5 linked regions of the Homo sapiens genome follow. The protein of the gene in region 2 interacts with the protein of the main gene of each other region in a biochemical or structural test. Each region holds a gene or a part of one and is shown on either strand. Other genes may lie near its edges.

Evidence for each region.
Region 1: the proteins of CDK5R1 (region 2) and SEPTIN5 form a complex in vitro, tested with the Homo sapiens proteins (one study listed by BioGRID).
Region 3: the proteins of CDK5R1 (region 2) and CDK16 form a complex in vitro, tested with the Homo sapiens proteins (one study listed by BioGRID).
Region 4: of the proteins of CDK5R1 (region 2) and ODF1, one has a biochemical effect on the other in vitro, tested with the Homo sapiens proteins (one study listed by BioGRID).
Region 5: the proteins of CDK5R1 (region 2) and CDK5RAP3 form a complex in vitro, tested with the Homo sapiens proteins (one study listed by BioGRID).

Annotation. Positions count from the first base shown.
Region 1 is NC_000022.11:19,713,145-19,717,306, reverse strand, and holds the start of SEPTIN5 (septin-5), read right to left. Parts: upstream 2,805-4,162; 5' UTR 2,719-2,804; coding exon 2,676-2,718; intron 2,611-2,675; exon of another isoform or gene 2,527-2,610; coding exon 2,516-2,526; exon of another isoform or gene 2,512-2,515; intron 88-2,511; exon of another isoform or gene 1-87. UniProt on the Homo sapiens protein: Filament-forming cytoskeletal GTPase. May play a role in cytokinesis. May play a role in platelet secretion.
Region 2 is NC_000017.11:32,485,614-32,489,792, reverse strand, and holds the start of CDK5R1 (cyclin-dependent kinase 5 activator 1), read right to left. Parts: upstream 2,801-4,179; 5' UTR 2,631-2,800; intron 2,318-2,630; 5' UTR 2,173-2,317; coding exon 1,249-2,172; 3' UTR 1-1,248. UniProt on the Homo sapiens protein: p35 is a neuron specific activator of CDK5. The complex p35/CDK5 is required for neurite outgrowth and cortical lamination. Involved in dendritic spine morphogenesis by mediating the EFNA1-EPHA4 signaling. Activator of TPKII.
Region 3 is NC_000023.11:47,217,386-47,221,488, reverse strand, and holds the start of CDK16 (cyclin-dependent kinase 16), read right to left. Parts: upstream 2,809-4,103; 5' UTR 2,384-2,808; intron 1,205-2,383; exon of another isoform or gene 1-1,204. UniProt on the Homo sapiens protein: Protein kinase that plays a role in vesicle-mediated transport processes and exocytosis. Regulates GH1 release by brain neurons. Phosphorylates NSF, and thereby regulates NSF oligomerization. Required for normal spermatogenesis.
Region 4 is NC_000008.11:102,550,283-102,554,389, forward strand, and holds the start of ODF1 (outer dense fiber protein 1), read left to right. Parts: upstream 1-1,306; 5' UTR 1,307-1,445; coding exon 1,446-1,765; intron 1,766-4,107.
Region 5 is NC_000017.11:47,969,894-47,973,912, reverse strand, and holds the start of CDK5RAP3 (CDK5 regulatory subunit-associated protein 3), read right to left. Parts: upstream 2,801-4,019; 5' UTR 2,767-2,800; coding exon 2,761-2,766; intron 2,552-2,760; coding exon 2,506-2,551; intron 395-2,505; coding exon 263-394; exon of another isoform or gene 220-262; intron 1-219. UniProt on the Homo sapiens protein: Substrate adapter of E3 ligase complexes mediating ufmylation, the covalent attachment of the ubiquitin-like modifier UFM1 to substrate proteins, and which is involved in various processes, such as ribosome recycling and reticulophagy (also called ER-phagy).

The sequences.
Region 1 (4,162 bases), on a different chromosome or scaffold from region 2:
CAACAGGCAAGCCCAGCGGAGCAGGACATGGGGCCTGGAAAGGTTCCAGGGTAGGACTGGTCAGGCCAAGCCCCTGCACATTAGAACATTAGAAGCTGGAGGCCCCAACCCCACCCCACCCCACCCGCCACCAGCCCTCCCTTAGGCTCTCCTGGCTGAGAGACCTCCTCCACTTCCTGTCCAGGCCCTGGTCCTGTTGTGGGGCCTGGACCACTGGCACCTGGGGAGGAGGGGCAGGCCCACAGCTGGGAACAGGAGAGCCTTTCATCCCAGGGAAAGGGGGCAGCTCCAGGCCCCCCAGCTCTACCAGTGCATCCCTCAGTCCTTGCTGCCAGAAAGCCTCCTCACTGGCCCCAGCCTTCCATGGCCCTGACCTGCAGGAAGCCTCTAGGCTGAGTCCCACCCAGTTTCCAACTGAGGGTCCACACCTCGAAGCCCAGCACCCACCCAGACAGGCTGGCATCTCAGGCCCAGGGCATCTCCAGGAAGACAGACAGCCCTGGGCCTAGGCCTCAGGCTAGGAGGTGTCTAACAGAGTGTGTGGCTCTCAGACTGCCTGCCTCAGTTTCCCCATTGGTAAGGCACAGCCTCTGGGGAGGCCCAGGTCAGGAGGGCAAGAATCTCACTCTCAGCGTTCAACCCACCTGCCCTGCCACCCACTGGGGCCCAGTCAGGGCCTGTGGATTCCCTGGGGGAGCCTCAAGGAAGGGGCCGTACCTGCCACCCCCTTTCTCTGGTCCCCAAGTGACAAAAGATACTCCCAGGGCTTCCTGAGCCATATGACACAGCTGCGCCCATCTCCTCCCAATGCCTGAGCCTCTCTGGCACTTCCATTCTTAGAATCACCCGAGTCAGCTCTGGGAGCAGCAGCCAGGGCCAAGAGATCACCGGTGCTGCCTGTGAGGAGGTGGGGGCACAGAGCGTAGTGACGGAACTCCCCCAATGCCTCTACAGCCCCCTTTCAAAGAGCAAAAAGAATGCTTGGACAGGCTGAGGCTCAGCAACGGTGGTAGCAGGGAAGCTGCCATGTGCTTCCAGCTCCCCCAGACCCACTGGTCACCCAGACACCTGGCCTGGCTCCTGCTCCGGGGCTCCCTTCCTTGGCCACACAGTGCCTTCTTCCTCTGGGCTTGGAGGCCTGGGAGGCCTGGGATGGGGTGAGGTGGACTCCCGGTTGACCTCAAACGATGGGCACCTCAGCAGGAGGGGGTCCCCACCCTGCAGTAATGGGCAAGAGAACCTGGCTGCACCCAACAGCAGTGGCTGGAGCCCAGGGTCTCAGAGTGCCCTTGGGTCAAGCTGGGGACACCTGCAGGCACAGGAGAAGCCTCAGGGGCCTGGCCTCCTGGCTTTCCCAGCCTCAGTTCCTTCCATTTCCCTCAAACAGTAGCCTGACGCATGTGTCCCTGCATCTCAGGCTTTGTCTGACCTGCTGTGATGGGGAGGCAGCTCCCAGCCTGGCTCCCCAAGGGGCCCCTCCCAGAGAGCCTCATCCACCTCTGGGTGGGGTGTGTCCCTTCCAGGAGAATGGCACTGGTCAGCCAGTGACTCCCCCAGCTCCTGGCCCCCCTGCCCGCCCTCCTGCCCTGCCTGCTGCACCCTGGGCCAGGACTCTGGAGTTCCACTCAGCATCCATGGCTCCTGAGAAACTCCATCCCTGATGGGGGCTGCCAGTGCCACCCTGGTGCCAGAATTGGGCTCTTCTTTTTTCCTCCAAAGATGGCTGAGCTCAAGCCAGAGAGGACACCAGCAGGCTTTCCCCAGCCCCCCCAGCCCACCTGGTTGTCAGCCCCCGCCCCACCCCAGGGGCCTCACAGCATTGTTTAACCCTGAGCTCGGCTGGGTTTCACCCAGGTGCCTAGACCAGCCTCCTGTCCAGTCTTGCTTTCCTGGAGGGTGGGGCCAACCCTTTTGAGAAGCCACAAGCCTATTTGTACCCACAGGGTCCCAGGACCCATCTGGGCACCCAGAATGACTCAGACCAGACCCTGGGGGTTCCCAATCTGGGGAAGAGTCCCTGTTGCAGACCTGAACACTCAAATTTGTGTATGGGGAGGGAAAGGGGCATGAAGGTGCAGGGGAGGTGGGTGGTGACCACAGGCCCTCTGCTGTAGGGCTGTTCAGGGACTGTGCTGGCTGATGGAGCCTGACTCCCCTCCCCCAGCGTGGCCTGCCACGACCATGGCCTCACCCAGGACCCCCAGCTCATGGCCTACAGGCCAGGTCAGCAGGAGATGCTGGCACTGGCCCTGTGGGAGGGGGACACTCTGCCCATCCCCCCATCCTGGGGAGGGGCGCAGGGTCCCTGCTGTGCGGGTCCGGGGACCAGGGCCCCCACTCCTCTCCTCTGAAGCCCCAGGCGCGGCGGCACTGCCCGGCTGACAATCGGTGATCGCGACAGGGCTGGGTGAGGGCCGGCGGGGGCGGGGTCGCGCCTGGGCGCCCAAGGCGCTAGTGTCACAATGGGTGACAGCCGGCCGGGTCTCCCGGCGGGGGAGCGGCGCTGCGCACGTACCTGCTTGTCCTCTGCGGGGTCGGGGTCGGGGTCGAGTCCGGGTCCGGTTCCGAGCGGGTCCGGGCCGGCGGGCGGGGGAGAGACGGAGAGACACGGTGAGAGGCGCGCGGGCGGCGGGGACAAAGGCGCGCGCGGGCACGCGGGCAGGCGCTGGGCTCACCTGGGGTCGCCAGCTTGCTCTTGTACCGCAGGCCTGTGCTCATGGTGGCCGCCGGCGGGGGACGTGCGGGGCGGGCTCGCGGGCGGGGCGCGACGACAAGCGGCGGAGGCCGAGGCCGGGCTGCGGGGTGAGCGGCCCCTCCGCGCCGCCGCCGCCGCCGCCCGCTCCGCCCGCGCGCCCGGCAGCCAATCGGCGCCCGCCGCGCCCACGCGCGACCCAGGGCGGCCCGGGGGGGCGGGGACCCAGGTCCCCCACCATGGACCCGAGACCACGGCCTCGGGGCGACGCCCTCGCCTCCTACAGCCCTGGCCGCGCCCGGGGTCACCCGACCAGACCCGCGCCGCCCCCGCCCTGCACGGCTGTTCCTGCCGGCCTCCTCCCCGCCACCTCCCCGGTGCCGCAGCCCAGGCCCAGCCTTACGCTCCCCCCGCCCTCGCTGGGACCCGGGTCCATGCCGGTCCTCGGACCATCCGTCCGGTGGCCCTTCTCTAAAGCCTGCCCTGGCTTTCCGGGCCAGACCCTGCACGCTCCGCCCCACCCCGCCGAGGTCAGCAGGGATGGTCCTGGCGCGGCTGGCCAGTGCCCAGCATTGCCCCTGCTGACCGCTCGGTGCTGCGCAGACCTGCTCTGCGAGCAGACGCACCTGGCAGGCTGTAGGCCACAGGCTTTTGGGCAGTGGTCCGGCCTCTCTCTTCCTGGGCTGTAAAATGGGATTATTTGTGAAGAGGAGTGATCTGAGGTGTCTGGCAGGACCGGCCCTGACCGTCTCACCCCAGCTCTGCGCCTGCTTCTCTGCTGACCCATAGGCTGTGGGGATGCTCCAGGCAGACCCGATCCCACCCTGCGGAGAAGGCTTGTAGGGGACCGAGGGGCACTGTGAAGGCAGGGCCAGGGCCTGCACCCCATTTACAGAGGGGGAAGTTCAGGCCCTAATCTTCAGTGAGTCAGCCAGACTCAGTGACTGAGAGCAAGTCTCTCCGGTCATTTGTGTCACTATCACATTCCCAGGTGTCCTCCGCCTGGACTTTCCCAAAGTGTCCCCAGGCGGCATCTCTGAAGGCTTTGGGGCTGTCAGGCTTGCGGTCACCACCTCCCCAGGTGAGGGCCCCCTTGTATGGAGATGTCTCCTGCACCCCGTATAGACAGTACCTCCACAGCCAGGGAATCCGCCTCTGCTCCCCACCCGTCCTGTGCCCCTTGGTCCCTCTGCTGGCCCGTGGGCTCCCTGGGTGGAGGGGGGTGTCGCTAGGGCCTTTCCATCTCTGAATCACCAGCACCCAGCACGGTAAGTGAAAAATTCATGTAAGCCGCGTCTTTGTTCCACAGTCCTTGCTCTGCTGCATTCTGTGGCCAGAGCGCCGTTGACCATAACCCTGCTCTGGGTCTAGAACTCTAACCAGTGTAGGGATCCCCCACAGTCCCAACCTCTCATCCAAGATGTGTTTGGAACTCAGGCTTTTTTGTATACATCATACATTATGTGGCAC
Region 2 (4,179 bases):
AGCCACCAATGCGGGAGAATTAGAAAGAAAATCAATAAAGTACACATTTGTGTTTTTACAGCCAGTAGGGTAAGGTGGAAACCAAAACCAGCAGCTGCAAATGATCAGTTGTAGAAATCAGCAGGCTTCCAGAGCAATCAGGAGTCTCACTCCCCGTCTTGTAATTGTCTCCAAGATCCGGCTGTCTCACTGGTCCTTGCTGGGCAAGGCTTCCTCTTTAGAAGAAACTCAACTGTTTAGAAACAGCTTTAAATTAACGGGTGGGGGTGGGGTCACCACATCGCCTTCCCCCCAGCTCTGCAGGACAAATGTCATGTGCACCAGCAAGAGGCCTTAGCCCTTAGGTGGGCACCGGCTTGGTCTCAAGGTATGGCATCCCTCACCTTGCCCAGAAGGCAGGCGTTGCTAATGGGCACCTGCAGCTGTCCTGGCATTTGCCACAGGGTGACTGCACTACATTATTCAAAAGAAAAACTCACCCAGGAAAGCTGTCCCCAGCTTCACCCCACCTCTTTAGCTGGGACCCAAATTGAGAGAAATTAATGAGTCAAACCAGCTCATCGGCCAATACCACCAACGTGGCTGGGAGCAGCAGACAAGGGGGTAGGGGGGCGAGTTCCATTTCTCCACTAAAGAAAAGCCCTTCTCCCTAAAAAAAGAAAACAGCAAATCAGGGCGGTGTGTGGTCAAACGACCAGACACAATCTTTCCACTAGACCCGCTCAGCTTCGCCTCGCCTAGATTGAAGATGTCCCCGGGTGGCGGGGATCTTGCCTCACGACCCCACTGGCAGCTCAGTTAGGGTGGCTGGCTCCAGGAGCCTCTGGGAGAGTGAATAACTCCACACAGGAGCCAGAAAAGGGCCTCCAACCAGAAACCCCAATTCCTCCCTGGGCCAGGCAGCCAGAGGCCCCTCTCTAGCTCCATACAGGGTGCAGCCGGCAGCCTTGCCTACCCTGGACCCAGCAAGGGCACAGGCGGCAGGGGCAGGTCAGTCCTTTGAGTTCCCCAAAGTGGGAGGTCAGTGGCCTGGGTGGCTCTGAATACATCTTCTGGGTTTTGCGCAAGGCTCGTGAGTTCAAAAGTGCCCAGAGTTCTTGGCAGGGATGAAAAAAACCCCAGGGAGAGACTGTGGGAAAGGTGAGGCCCTTGGTGGCTTTGCTAGACACATACTGTACACAAAACTGATTTAATAATAAATTCTTAAAAATGCATTGAATCCTTGAGCCATGACGCAGGCTACAGTGCTCACCGATCCAGGCCTAGGAGGAGCCGCTTCTTGTCCTCCTGGCCGCTCTCGTTCTTCAGGTCGGAGAAGACCTGTGTGAAGTAGTGTGGGTCGGCATTTATCTGCAGCATCTTTGAGCTCATGAGGTTGATGACAGAGAGGCAACGGTCCCAAAAGGCCTCCTTGCAGCTCTCCACCAGGAAGGGCTTGAGCGGGTAGGAGATCTCGTTGCCCATGTAGGAGTAGGAGAGGTACAGGCATGTCAGCAGGACGGCCTGGAGCTCGTGATCCGAGCCCACCTCGGAGGAGATAACATCCCTGCAGAGCATGTAGAGGAAGACCACGTTGGCCGGCGTGATGAAGCCCTGGTCCTGCCAGCCCTGCAGAAGCAGCGAGCGGTCCACGCTGCGCAGCCAGAGCACGGGGTCCGTGGGGGACAGGTGCTTCAGGCGGTAGCACCGGCGGCAGAGAAACTCACCCAGGCAGCGAAGCAGCTCACTGGTGGACGCCTGGACGATGACCCGTTTGGGCGTCCCTGCGGAGGTGACGGCAGGGTGAGGGGCTTTCTTGACTGAGGAGGAGCCCCCGGTCTGGGAACCCGAGAGCTGGCTGGCCGGGGGTGCAGGCGGCTGGGCCGGTGGGGGCTGGGCGAATGTGGACAGGTTGGCGCACGACAGCGACTTCTTCAGGTTCTCATTGTTGAGGTGCGTGATGTTGTTCTGGTAGCTGCTGTTGGGCTGCACCTTCTTGGAGTTCTTCTTCTTGGCCGACACGGCCACGATTCTCTTCCAAGGCAGCACGGAGATGATGGAGTGGCGCTTCAGGTTCTTGTCCTTGGCGTTCTTGCTGTTCTGTACGGCCGTATAGTGGCCCACGGTGGCCGCGCCATCCTCAAACAGCGTGGCCTTCCGGTAGCTGGGAGACAGGGACAGCACCGTGCCCATGGTGCTGCTGCGCGCCGGGCGGGGGCTCGCGCCCCTGCGCGCCCAGCCTGCCGGCCGGAGGGATAAAACCGCTCACCGAGCCTGCGGCGGCCCCGGAGAGGAGGCGGGGGCGCTCCCGGGAAGCGTGCTGCCCCCTTGGATCTGCCTGGAAAACAAGATGGTTCTTAGCGCCAGGCTGGGCTCCGCGCCGCGCCCCTGCGCCCCTGCGCCCCTCCGCCCCGCGCCTCGGCGCACCCCGCCGCCCCAGTCCCGGGCCCTACCCGCGCCCCCGCGACGCAGCCTCGCCGCCTCCACTGCAGCACCCCCGCCCGCCGCCGCCGCTGCGGTCCCCAGGCGCAGCCGGGAGGGGCCCGGTCGCCGACGGAGGCGGCCGAGGACCCCCGCCTGGACACCCCGCACGGGCGCGACCCCGGTCTCCGCTCCCCAGGGCCAAGGACGGCCGCCCAGCGCAGGCTTACCCGGCAGGCGGCAGCTCCTGCGCTCCGCGCCCTCCGCAATGCGCGCCGCGGCCCCGCCGCCGCGGTCCCGGCGCTCGGCGGCGCTCGGGGGCGCTCGGCGGGGATCGGCTGGGCTCGCGCTCGGCGGCGGCGACGGCGGCGGCGGCGGCGGCGGCAGCTAGGGAGCTTCTGTCCAAGGTTCTGCAGGCACCGCAGCCCCGCCCCCCGCTCGGCCGCCCGCACCTTCGCCGCCGCCGCCGCGCTCCCGCTCCCGCTCCCGCTTCCGGCGCGCGCCTCAGCGCCCTCCCTCGCGGGGCGCGCGCGCCGTCCACGCTCCGGCCTGGTCTCGCCGGGGAGTCGCGGCCGTTGGTGTCCTCAGCTCGAGCCGCGCACGGTGCGGGTAGGACGCGGCAACGAGCGGGAGGCACCTCTACGCGCCGGGCCCCATCTAGGAGCCGGACTCCGCGGCTGCGGCGGGACACGCGGCGTCGGCCCGCCCCGCCCCTCGGGGCCGCCCCTCCCGCACAGCTCGCCGCCCGCTCCGCGCCGCCGCCCAACAGCAGCCCGGCCGCCGGAGAGTCCTCGGCGCCCGCGCAACCCAACTCTGCCGACGCGGGGCGGGCGCCGAGCAGGGCGGAGCCGAGGGCCGACCCCGCCCGCGTCCCGCCCAGACACGTGCTGCCTTTGTTCCCGCCGCGGCGCCCGCAGCTGCCGGCCGCGGGGGCACTCTCGGCCGAGTCCCTGCCCTGGCAGCGCGCGGCCCGCCCTCTCTGAGGCTGCCGCCCTGGCCTGGTGAGGAGCCCTCCGCCGAGGCCAGGGTCCGGAGCTCCCTCCTTCCACCTGACATCCCCGTCCCTGTGGAAAGCAGCCAGGGAGCGCGGGGAAGAAGGCCCTGGGCGGGGAGAGGCGACGCCTTTACTGAGGCCTCCCGAGTGCCACGCGCACCTCGAGTGGACAGTCCAATCGGTTCTGGCCACCCCTCCGGGGCCTCCGTTCCCTCATCATGGGTAGATGACCGCGGCCGAAGTGGGCCTCAGAGATCCAAGCCAGAGAAGCGTGGCCCGTAGCCAAGCCTGAGCCCGTCACAAATATGACCTCTAAGTTCCCACTCGCCCTCTTATTTGTCATATTAAAGCTGAAGCAACTGCCCCTCCGGCCAGCTTTCTGACCCTCTTAAACGTTTTCAATTCTAAGTATGTATAATTTGAGAACTTGATGCTAGCGAAATTGAGTAAAATTCTGTTTCTGAAAGCTGTTCCTGTCAGATGTGAATCCAGATCCTTCACAAAGGCTGTTGTTCATTTACTATTTTACCTTGTTTCTGGAGATCGAGTCAAAACTGACCACAAACCTGGGAAACAGGAAACTTAAGCCCTGTCTTAATCCAGATTATCTCTGGACCTAGAGATGAGGGAGTGGCTCTCCAGAGGAGAGGATGCCACCCAGTTACCTGACCACTCCAGCCGACTAGGCTTTCACCAGCCCTGTCAACTGTCCTAGGGGGAACAGAAAGGGAATCTGGCATCATTCAAAATGGTGCAATCAAGGCAGAAAGTGCTGGGTTTTGTTT
Region 3 (4,103 bases), on a different chromosome or scaffold from region 2:
TGCTCTGGAGTTCAGTTTTTTGGGATTTTAGGAAGATGGGGTGTAAAATCTGTATATCACATAACACTCCCAGAAAGGGGGATGGGGGTCTCAGACATGCCCCTGTGAACAGAGATAATTGAACATTTATACGCAAGGAAACTTTTAAATATCATTTCAGTTGAATGAGCTTTTTAGATTTCAAAAAAGGAGGGAGCAAGAAACTGGACATAAAACCTTACCCCAAAAAAGGCACATGTCCTGCCTGACCCTTCCTGATCCCCAAAGACATACACCCATCCTCAGACTACTCTCATACTCAAGGATACTCAACACACCAACCACTAAGGACTTGGTCATCGCACCCTATGTCCTGATCCCCATTAATACACGCTAGACCCTCAAGGAGGCCTCACTACATCTTACCTGCTATTATCTCATATACCCATCAGCATTCAAAGCCCTAACACATAACATACCGCCCTGAACTCTGTCAGCACACACTTAGCCTCCTCTAAGTAACTCTTGCCACCACATTCTTGGGCCCCTCCCTGGCCTAGCTGCTTGTTACCTTCTCCATAGTACTGACTCCCCTCATTAACGTACTGTTCCCCCTACATGATTCTGACCTCTATTAACATGCACTTGGGGTACTCTATAGCTGACCCACATTAGCACTCACTGGACCTTCTTCATGCTGCTCTGAATGCTATTAACATAAAGTGAACCTTACAGATAGATCTCTAACCAGTGTTACCCACACTCAGGCCCCTTCACAGCTACGACCATCCTTAACACACATTCCAGTCCTTCCACTGTCCTGTCCCCTCTGTCAGCACAAACTGAGTCTTCACTCAGGCCTGATTTCTATTAGCACACGCCGGGCCTCACACAGTCCTGCCTCCCCATTAGTGCACCCTGAACCCTTACTCAGCCCTATTCCGCAGGGACACACAAACACACTGTTCTACCATGGCCTGACCCTCATTAGTGCACACAGGTCTCATTCAGCCCTGACTCCCATTAGCACACACTTCAGCCCTCCCTAGCTGTAATCCACTTTAGCACACCGAGATCATCACACATTCCTGTCCTCTATTGCTCTCTGCTCAGAGATATCTCCACAGATATAATCCTTGTTGGTTCACACTTAGATCCCTTCATGAAAGCCCTGATCCCCCTTATTACACACTAGATCCCCTCCGCAGCCCTACCCCCGAGTAGCACCCCCTGGAACCTCAACATACTCTGGTCCTCCGCGGACACAAGGGCACAATCTTCACAAGGTTCTGATGCTTATTAGCATATTCCAGACTTCACACAGCTGACTCTCGAAATGGCACACATTGAAGTGCCTCTATGTCTCTAAACCCACATTAGCAACCACCAGTACTTCTATTACCCTGCTCCTTCCTAGTGTGCCCTCGAGACTCACATTCCCTGTGTCCATGGACACACTCACACCTCACATCACCTTTACCCTTCGTCCACTAAGCCTCTGACAGTGCTAAGACACTTCCCCACCACTCCTTCCTGGGCCCAGACAGACACGCAATTCTCATCTCCTTTAGGCCAGGCTCAGGTATTCCACAGTCCTTCCTCCGTTAGATACCCTCAGGTCCTTCCTCCACTCTGCCCTCATTAGCATATACTGGGTCCCAAACTACCTAGACCTTCGAGGCCACAGGCATACACCCTCTACAGCCATGACCCCCACTGGCGCACACACCACACTCGAGTCCTTCAGCTACCTGCCCTCCACAAGCACACACTGCATTCTCACACACTGCAGGCCCCACGGACAGACACGCAGTATTAACACCATCCAGGGCCTCATCGCCACGCACCAGGCCTCAGAGCCCTGACCCCACCAACACACGTTCTGGTACCTGTGCCACCCTGTCCCCCATGAACACACACCGGGCCTCTCTGCGGACATAATCCCTATGAGCATGTCTTAGAACTTCCTCGACACCCTACCCCCCGTTATACACCCTCGGGTCCCTCACCCGCTCCGCACCCCGCCCTCCTTCCACAAGCACACACGGGGCCTTGAACCTTACACGACTTATTGGCGTGAGGCTTACTGCCACATGCTCCGACCCCCATCAGCAACCCCCCCAAGTCTTTCACCCCATTGTCACCCATTTCCACACCCTTTGGTCCTTTGACTCCCCCAGGTCCCCATTAGCACCCACAGCACTACCCAACCCCAGCTCCCAGGACAGGCCCAGGGCGGGGCCAAGGTCAGGGAGGCCCCAAATGACCCCCCGCCCCGGTGCATTCTGGGAAATTCGCCGGGGGTGGGGGCACCTGCCAGCCCCGCAGCCCAGACCCCTGGGCACCGCCCGAGGTGGGTTCTGAAGGAGGAGGGGCAGCCTCCACGCCTCGGGGACGCGCTCACCGGCGGGGGCGCGCGAGCAACCTCAGAGCCGCGGGGCCGGCGCGGCGGCGCCTGGGGCGGCGGCCCGGGATGAGGCCGCGCGACCTCCTTCTCCTCCTGTTCGCCGCAGGCGCCCGTCCCAGTAGTCTTCAGCCATGGTTGCTGGGCCCGGGCCGCCGCCGGCTGAGGAGGAGGAGGCGGCGGCGGCGGCGGTGGCTGAGGCGGAGGCGGCGTCCCGCTCAGCCGGCCATGAGCTTGGCCGCTGCGGGCGATGCCCCCGGACTCGTTGGCGCCGGCTTGAATCCGAGTGCTCACGGCGGCTCGCGGCACAGAGCGGTCTGATCGCGGAGTGGCGGCGGATCCCAGGGCCGAACAGCCAACGGCCCAACCGCCGCGCGCGCCGCGCTCCGCGCATGCGCACGCAGGCGCTCGGAAGGGTGAAGTGGAAAGGAGGGGACTCACCTCGGACTGCATGTACCAAAGGACCCGTCCGCAGCGGGAGGGGACGCGGCCATCGCGAGCCCAGAGGAGGATGCGGCGCCAAGCCGGAGACGGCACCAGGGAGAACTGTGGAGGCTGTTTAGTACTCAGTTCCGATCTTGGCAGAAGTTTGCTAGCGCCTAGGTGAGCAGTGGCCAGTAACCTGGCGCGTCAATCACCACTCGTTCCCCCTACTCGGTCTCACTTGGTACATCCCCATGGTGGCAAACGGGACTTTTGCAAGGAGGAAAAAAGACAAATGAAGCACTCAGTTCTAGTCCCTTGAGGTGCTTGGGGAGGAAGGCATTTTAAAGGTTCGCGAGAAGATGACTTTTCGAGGAGAGGCAGCCTGAAGAGTTATTGGCCTTTACCACCTTAGCTAGGACGGCCTATCCCCGCCCAACTGCCCCCTCCACCGCTACCTCATTCCCGTAGTGAACGTGTGCAGCCCCGCCCTTTGAGGTTGTCGCCCAGCCAATCTGATTTGCTCTCTGTGGCGAGGCCGAGCAAGAATAAAGGGCGTGGCTGACTGAAGAGGCGTGATTTCGCTCTCTACCCGACTCCGCACGCCTCCGCCCAGGTTTCATAGGTTTTCACCGTCGGCGGGGGTGGGGTCTCCTTTTTGTTCTGAGCTCCTCCTTCGCTATAGGCCGAATATTCCGCAAGGTGATTGGTCATAATTGCGCTCAATCGAGTCTCGTCCCGCCTTTAGCCCGCCCTCCATCTCATACAGCGGGCCTCCCGGGGTGGAACCCAGGCTGAGAAAGAAGGAAAGAGGCGGATCCTTAGAGGCGCAGGAGCCGCTACTGCGCATGCTTGGAACTTCGAGCGGGGCGGAGCCTCTTTTCTGCCTCACACGAGTATTTGCATAGGCGCCGTGCGTTGGATTTTCCTGCCACCTCTCTTGCCCGGCACAGCCCCTCCCGTGCCTCCCCTCACTCTGAGGGTTTTTTGTTTTGTTTTGATGTCAGTCAACACAAGTAGAACACTCCGCGGTTTTATTTCCATTTTATTTATTGGGCGCATGTTGTGTGCCAAGTACTACCAGGCCGACCTAATCCTTCACTTCCTTCTGCCTGGAAAACCACACTATCCCCAAGTCCAGCTCAAAGGGCTGCAACCTCCAGCAGGCCTTCTGGCACATCCTTACACTACCCTGTTCCAAGGCAGCCTCCCCGCCTCTTCCGGGCTTCCCTTTATGGCAGCCTTGATCACAGCAGTTAGGATTTTCAGTAAGGTTTACATTAGTGAGATTTCCCGG
Region 4 (4,107 bases), on a different chromosome or scaffold from region 2:
TTTTGAGAGGACAGAGAAGACTTTTAAGGTGAGTGGGATGATGGGTGGGGAAGGTTGAGGAATGACAGATTTCTATATGAAAGTCGCTGTGGCTACAATGTGGAAAATGGATTAGATGGGGCCTGGGCAGAGGTGGGGGAAGGCTTTCCCATTGGCTTCCTCCTTGCCATCCCCATAGCCATGATCCCCAGTCCAGATTTTTGTTGTCTCTTCTTGTCTTGCAGCAGAAAACCCCACTACTATTGTCCCTAGCAACTTACCTTCAGTGTGGCTGTCTCACTTCTGACAAAAGAAAAGAAAATCAACAATCCTTCGTTGGGCTCAAAATAAAGTTCAGAGTCCTTAGTCTGGCTACAGGTCCCTTCAAACCTGGCCCTTGTCTCCCTCACCAGTGTCACATCCAACCACTTGTCATCAATACCTGAGCTCTAGTTCATACAAGGGAGACTCGAGAGCTGGACCGCAGTTTGAGGTGAAAGGACCAGAGGAGTAGAGGCACCGAGAGCCAAATCTGAGGCCGAATCAGAGGTCTAGGATGTTAACTGAACAGAAAGTAAAGGAAACTGGCCGAAGCGGGGGTTTCAGGCAGTTGGCTTCCAGCATCTTCAGGCGGTTGGCTACAAGAACATCAAAGACCAACATTTGGGAAGCACTCAGGGACAAGACATCCGGAGGCTTGGATGCAAGACCAAAGGTGTAGTTGATGGGAGGTAGTTCCCCAGGACAGGCCCCCGAGGACTGACAGATGGGAGCTTAAGGACAGGACCCCCAACCAGTAGAGAAATGAGGTTCCCGAACAGCCATGACCACAGCTGGCGCAGAATGGGCAGGACTCAGAGACTTGTAACTCAGAAGGTCAAGGACAATGGCTGACTTGAGGATGACTTGGTAGGAGGAGAATGATGAGAACATTCTTTATATTCTACCTGTCTGGAGACAGAATGAATTCTAGAACAAAAGGAGCAAGGCCAAGCTTCCAATCAAGGCTAGAGCTAGAAGGTCATGGAGAAAGGCGTGGGCAGCTCCTGCCTTCGCCTGCACCAAGTTCAACAAACACACAGTCATAGCCATGGCTGGTCCCCAGAGCACACACAAGGCAAGGATGTTAGTGGCCAGCCCCATGCACCCCGATGAGCTATGCTCGCTTGGGAGACCCATCCTCCTTGAAGGTGAGTGAAATCTCAACACGAGTATGGTTCTGAGAGTAGCTCTGTAACTCTGAGGATGGTCTCTGGAGACCATGACTGTGTACAGTTCACATGGTAACCAGAAGACTATGACATACTTCAGAAGGTGGTGAGGTCATAGAACACAAGCTTTAAAGTAAGTGAATCATGTGTGCCTCATTTATTTTTAAAAGCAACTTCTGAGAAGGGCTTAGAACAAATTTTTTCCCGGAGTGCCATTTCCCAAAGGTACTCACAGAACAATCAGGTGTGACCATAATGGCTGCACTGAGTTGTCTCTTGGACAGTGTCAGAAGGGACATAAAGAAGGTGGACAGAGAACTAAGGCAACTGAGATGCATCGACGAATTTAGCACACGGTGCCTGTGCGACTTGTATATGCACCCCTATTGCTGCTGTGACTTGCACCCATATCCGTACTGCTTGTGCTATTCCAAGCGATCACGCTCTTGCGGCCTGTGTGATCTCTACCCATGTTGCCTGTGTGATTATAAGCTTTACTGTCTGCGACCATCTCTCAGAAGTTTGGAGAGGAAAGCCATCAGAGCCATAGAAGATGAGAAGCGAGAGCTTGCCAAGTAAAATAACTTATTTTTAAATTTTTATAGTCGGTATATTAGCCTTATAAGTTGGAATAAGGAAAAATATGTGACAATCAATAGTTGAACAAAGATTAAAAGGGTTCAGGATAATGACCCTGGTGACTTAGGAAAGATTTAAGGAAAGAAGAGTAAATGAGTCCATGATGGGAATTGTAGGGTTCTCAAAAGACAATGTAATGATGTCGATTGGCAAGGTCGTCGGTGGTTTATAGCAAGAATGCCAGTATGATAAATAATGCGGCTTTAATGAAGGGAAGAAACAGGGGGTGTCATTAAAAAGCCATTGGAAGCAGCAAACTAAACATTTTTCCTGGTTATGAGTAAAGTGATTTGAGTATATTTGGACTTACAGAAATGACTACAGGAGAAGTAATAATAATAGATCAAATCCTTAATGTGTGCCAGAGGCTTTACAAGCAGGAGAGCAAATTGAACAGTAGAGGCATTGCCTTGGTTTTGTGGGAATATCATTCTCCTATCCCCCCACTCCAGGCAAAGACTTACCTTGTATCTGGAATTAGGTCTATCATGTTGGCCTCCCCTCTAACTCTAGCAAAGGTCTTGCAAATAAACTATGGCACTGAGTTGTAGCTTTCAGGATAGACTTGAAAGGCTTTTTAATTGAATTGGGTAATTAAAAAGAGTCAGTTTTTTAAAAAAATTTTTGTTTTAGATTATATTTTCTTTTTGCCTGGAGAAAACTTTCCTTTTCTAACTTTTTACATATGCCATTTAGTCTGTTACTGTTGATGAAAAAGATGGTTGAAAGTGCTGTCCCTGGTTAAATAAATAATACATTCATGCACTGGAATAATAAGTAAATATAGAAAGGATTGATGAAGCATCTTACATATTGATGTATTAAGTCAAACAAGCAAAGTGCAGAAAAACTGATAGACAGATGACAGATAGATAGATAGATAGATAGATAGATAGATAGATAGATGATAGATAGATAGAGTCTCTTGACAACAGTGACAGTGATGTTTCTTTGGAAAAAGCAATAGGAGGCCGGGTGCATTGGCTCATGCCAGTAATCCCAGCACTTTGGGAGGCGGAGGCGGGCAGATCACCTGAGCTCAAGAGTTCGAGACCAGCCTGGCTAACATGGTGAAACCCCATCTCTACTAAATACAAAAAAAAAAAAAAAAAAAAATTAGCCAAGCGTAGTGGCACGTGCCTGTAATCCCAGCTACTCGTGAGACTGAGGCAGGAGAATCACTTGAACCCAGGAGGCAGAGGTTGCAGTGAGCCAAGATTGCACCACTACACTCCAGACCGGGTGACAAAGTGAGACTGTCTCAAAAAAAAAAAAAAAAAAAGGATAATTATTGTCTAGGTCACCAGCCACCAATGGTCAGGAATGAACCTCCCTCATAGCCTGGGAGCTTTCACCTGTAAATTCATCTATACTCTTTGAACCAATGTTTGTTTTTATTTCTTAGGGCATCAAGTCACATAAATTGCTCACACTGTGAGGCAGGGACTCTTTTTAAAATATTTGGTCCAAGTTAAGGTTTCCTTGTGAGCAGATCAGTATCCACTCTCCTCCTACTTTTGGATACTTGAATACCCTTGTCCAGGTCTTTCCAGCCTCTGTCTTCCTGGCTTCTCTCCTATCCCCAGACTCTACCAATTAAAATCCCTCTCTGTCCTGTGCTGTCTACTCTCTTGATGCCTCTTTCAGAAGCCTTGTTTCTTGGCATGCAGTAGAAACAGCTTCAAGCTTAATTCTCGGCAGTGTAGTTTAGGCAAGAGGTAATGTTTTCTCTGGTTTGTGATGCTCTTCCTGACAGCGTCTGGGTCTTTGCCTATTTTTTCTCTGCCTGCAGGCAATATGTGAAGCTGGTGATGTCTTTACATTAATTTCTGGATCTCGGAAATGATAACTCCAAGTCCATTGTAGAAATGACCTCAGGCTTGTCCGCTTTATCTCTTCCAATTCACACCACCTTGTGAAATTTCTATGCTCTATTTCTGACAACTTGACATTTCACTCTCCAGAAGGGCTTAGTGTCACTTGCAAACCTAAATATTCAATTTTCCTGAATATGGGTGAAAATGTTAAACCCTGATTCTAGCCTCAGTCCCAGAAGGCCCCCAGTGTAGTATTTTTTCTTCTAGTGCAGTGCCTTTTATTCTTATCTCTAAGCTAGCGCCTGATCCATAACTAAATAGATGCAGAAATATCATGTTGATTCAATTTTTTAAAACAATCTTTGGTGTGAAAGCTTGCCCAAGGCTTTTTGAGTTTAGAATTCATATTCACATGACCTTCCTCCCCTTTAAAGAATGCAAGGGGGTTGGTTAGTTATGAC
Region 5 (4,019 bases), about 15 Mb from region 2:
GATTTCGAGAACTAAAGTATCTTCTTCACCTACTCTGGGCACTGCAGGTGGCTGATTCATGTATAATATACTGCCAGTAACTTTAGTGTGTAGCTTTTCCCTAAATCATTTCATAGTGGAAGAAGCCAGCATCTATACCTCAAATAAAAATCGCTCCCTCTCTAAAGGCCAGCCCTGGTGGCTAAATAACAAGAGAGTAGCTCAGCTGATACATACTACCTCAGCAAAGAGGGGACTCCAGTGACAGCCCCTAAGCACTCACAGGACCCAGACAGCAGCTGGGCGATCTCTTCGCTCTCTGGCATGTCCTGGATGGCAGCATTGATCTTCTCGCGGATCGTCAGCACCAGACTCTGCCATTTCAGGCTGCAGTGCCTTCTGTCCACCAGCCAATCTACATGAGAAGCACCCAAATTAGAGCATTCCCATTCACATCACCAAAATTCCATCACTAATTCGAGTGAAATACACTGAAATTAGTCTAAAAGTTTTCTTTACATTGGTTAAAGTATGGGGGTCATGGGAAGATGGGAATAAAGACAAGCCCAAAGAGATGCCTGGGGCTAAACCAGGCTCTGACAATCTGACTTCATTAGCAGTGTGATTTTTATAGAGCAATTGCCTCAACACAGGGATAACAAAAAGTTTAAATTGGTCCTGAAAGTGCCACTTTTGACCATTCTCAATTCCCCATAATATTTTTGCTTCTATGGGTAATTATATCTTTCTTCCTGACAAGAGGATGCTGCTCAACTTCCATTTCCTCAGGGCTGGGGTTAACCATGACAATGGAAAATACAAGATGGTTATGCCAAGTACTGGATGAATGAACAGCTGCAAAGCCCCTAATACCTACAGCGCCCTAAGGACTAGATAACATGACTCTGTTGTGAACAGTGAAGTACCACCCTGTACATGTGAATACCAATGGGACTGACCTCTCAAAGTCTGGGCCCAGATTTGTGGCTTCAGAGCCATGCATATTTCCTCAGTGAGAGCTAAGAGCTGAGCTTTGTGGTCAGATGGTCCTGGGTTCTCGTTATCAAGTTTCTTGAGCAAGTCTACTATTCTGTGCCTCAGTTTTCCCACATGTAAAATGGGGAATAATAAGACACTGACTAGAAAAGGGAATGCAGGTAAAACACTGAACAGTGTGCCTGAGACACGGCAAGGACTCAAAAAATGACAGTGATCATTTTTATCATGTCAAGTGCCTAAAACAGCACCTGGTACAAAAAAAAACCCTCAATGAATGGTGGTCATTTTATTGGTCCTTTTCATGACCAAGAACAAGCTCACACACCAAGACTGCACATGGGCTGAAGGGCCAGTACAAATCTGAAGGGAGGCTAAAGAAGCTTCCCCCGTGACCACCAAGCAGGACTGACTAAATGGCACTACAGAGTGGTGAATTCAGAACTTGAACTCTGCCAACCGGTCAAACGCTGGGGTCCCACACTAGTATCAGTTATACTCTCTCTGCTATATTCCTGTAAAGTTTTCAGAAAGAAAAATTCTGTTGATGTCACAGAACTAGAAGCAACGGACTGGGGTAGTCAAACAGACACCATCTTAAGGACAAGATTGGCATCAAATCCATGAATCCAATAAGCATTTTAAAATGCCAGGAGCTGTGTGATCAGATGAAGAGGCCTTCCCTGACTATGAACTGGGGAGGAAGTATGTAAGCCCCATACAGACAACCTGGAGATGGCCTGGACACTAAAAGGTTTTCATTTGCAACTGGGTCTTAGGTCCCTCTTCCTCCTAAAATCAAGGGGGAGGTGGAAGCTTTTTAAATGAGGTTTTTTTTTTTTTTCCTGGCATAATGCAAAAGGCATGGACAGTGGGTCAGACAGACTTAAGTTCCAATTCAGATGTGCCACTTAGTGGTTGACTGTTTTTTGTCTTCTTTTTGAGATGGAGTTTCGCTCTCGTTGCCCAGGCTGGAGTGCAATAGTGAGATCTCTGCTCACCGCAACCTCTGCCTCCGGGGTTCAAGCAATTCTCCCACCTCAGCCTCCCGAGTAGCTGGGATTACAGGCATGTGCTCCCATGCCCGGCTACTTTTTATTTTTATTTTTTTGTATTTTTAGTCATGGAGACATGGAGACAAGGTTTCTCCATGTTGGTCAGGCTGGTCTCGAACTCCTGACCTCAGGTGATTCGCCCACCTCGGCCTCCCAAAGTGCTGGGATTACAGGCATGAGCCACCGCGCCCGGCAGTGGTTGACTGTTTTTAAAGCGAGTCATTTATCCTGTCCCTGAATGATACGATAACATATGTTATTAAAGGAGAAAACGCAGGTCAAACAGACTGTACATATGGTTCGTTCCCGCTGCTATCAGGGAAGCAGGTCTGGCCACAGATGGGGCATAGAACGAGGCCAGTGGTCAGCATCTCGACTCAGGCTTTCAGGGGTCAGAGCTCCCGGCTATTGGACACAGGGGGCAACGCACAGGCCTCCCCCCGACAGCCAGCTGCGCGGTGGCGCCCCCTCCTACCGAGCAGCTTGCTGGTCTGGATGTCGATGGGCACGTGCTGATGGTCCTGGCGGGAAACACGGTGAGGAGGGGGGCGTGAGCGCGGAGAGAGGACGTACCACTCGCGCGCTCATTTCAACGTCCCAACCACCACCCTGCAGGGCCAGAACGGGGCCAGAGCGATGGGCTGGGTTGAGCCGCTTCCGGAGGGAGACCGGAGACACAGGTTAGGGGTCCGCGGCCAGTCCCCAGCACACCCAGCTCCTGTCCCCACACCTCCATCTTTCCTCCACTTCCGCTTCAGGCTGGAGACTGTGGCCCGCCCCGCCCTACCACCAATCCAGTGGCGTTGTGGCCGAGCCTCCGTTTAGACACAAACGGGCATCCTTCGGCCACGTCGCCGCCTTCCGTACAGCCAATCAGGGTTTACGCTCCACTCAGGCCTCAAGCCCCGCCCACCCCAGGCTCCGAATGGCTGAGCTCGGGAGGGGCGGGAGAATGGAGACAGCCAATTGGAGACGCGAGGCGGGCTCAGGGCAGGGGACGGGAGGGGGTGCGCTGCAGCGGCCGTGGGATTGCGACAGGCGGCGCTCGAGAGCCCAGCCTGGCAGCCGCTTCCCCTGGCGGGCACTGGGTCTTCTCCACGCAGATTGAGACGTCTGCTGGCGGGGTCCTAGCGCCGATCTGGGAGGCCGTTGCAAATACCTTCTTCCCTCCTTGCGTCGCTTTACCATCCAGAGCAGTGTGCAGGTCTCTTGTGGCACTTGTCATGCTTTGCCTCCTCATTCAGTTTCTCTAATAGACATGGTTGAGCACCTGCAACGTGTTGGGCGATTAGGGCAGGGAAGGGGAAGGAAGAGAGTCGGTGAGACGTCCCAAAGAGAACACCTACATTGAGTCTAAACGAAGAGCTGAAGATAGCTGGGTGATGTGGGAAGAGGAGTTTTAGGTGGAGGAGACTACACAGACAAAGCTTAGGTGGCCACAAACTGCAAGAGGGGTGCAAGCAACAACAGGCAGGCAGGACGGGCAACGTAATTTGTGAGGTCCAGTGCAAAATGGAAATGCACAGCTGCTTGTTACAAAATGATGAAGAATTTCAAGATGAAGTCGGCTCCGCGGGCAGGCCAACCTCTATACCGTAGATGGTTTGAGGCAGCGAGTGGCTAGAGGAGAGGCTGTAAGGGTGGAAAGGCCATATCAAAGGGAGACTTATTAAGGAACTTGGACTTCATCCCTTCAGACAGAGGAATCACAGAAGGGGTTTGAGGCAGGGAGGAACCTGTACAGATAGGCTGCTGGGATGATGGATGCATGGGAGATAAGACTGGGGACAAGGAGGCTGGAAGGAGGTTGTTATCGAGGGATTATAGCCTGAGCTGGGACACAAGATATGAGGAGGAAGGGGAAGGGCTGGATCTGAGGAATATTTAGGAGGAAAATGTATAGGACTTGGCAATTGATTGGCTGTTTGGGTGGAGGAGAGAGACACTAAGGATGACACCTAGGTGATTAGGTGGGAACCACCACCTGAG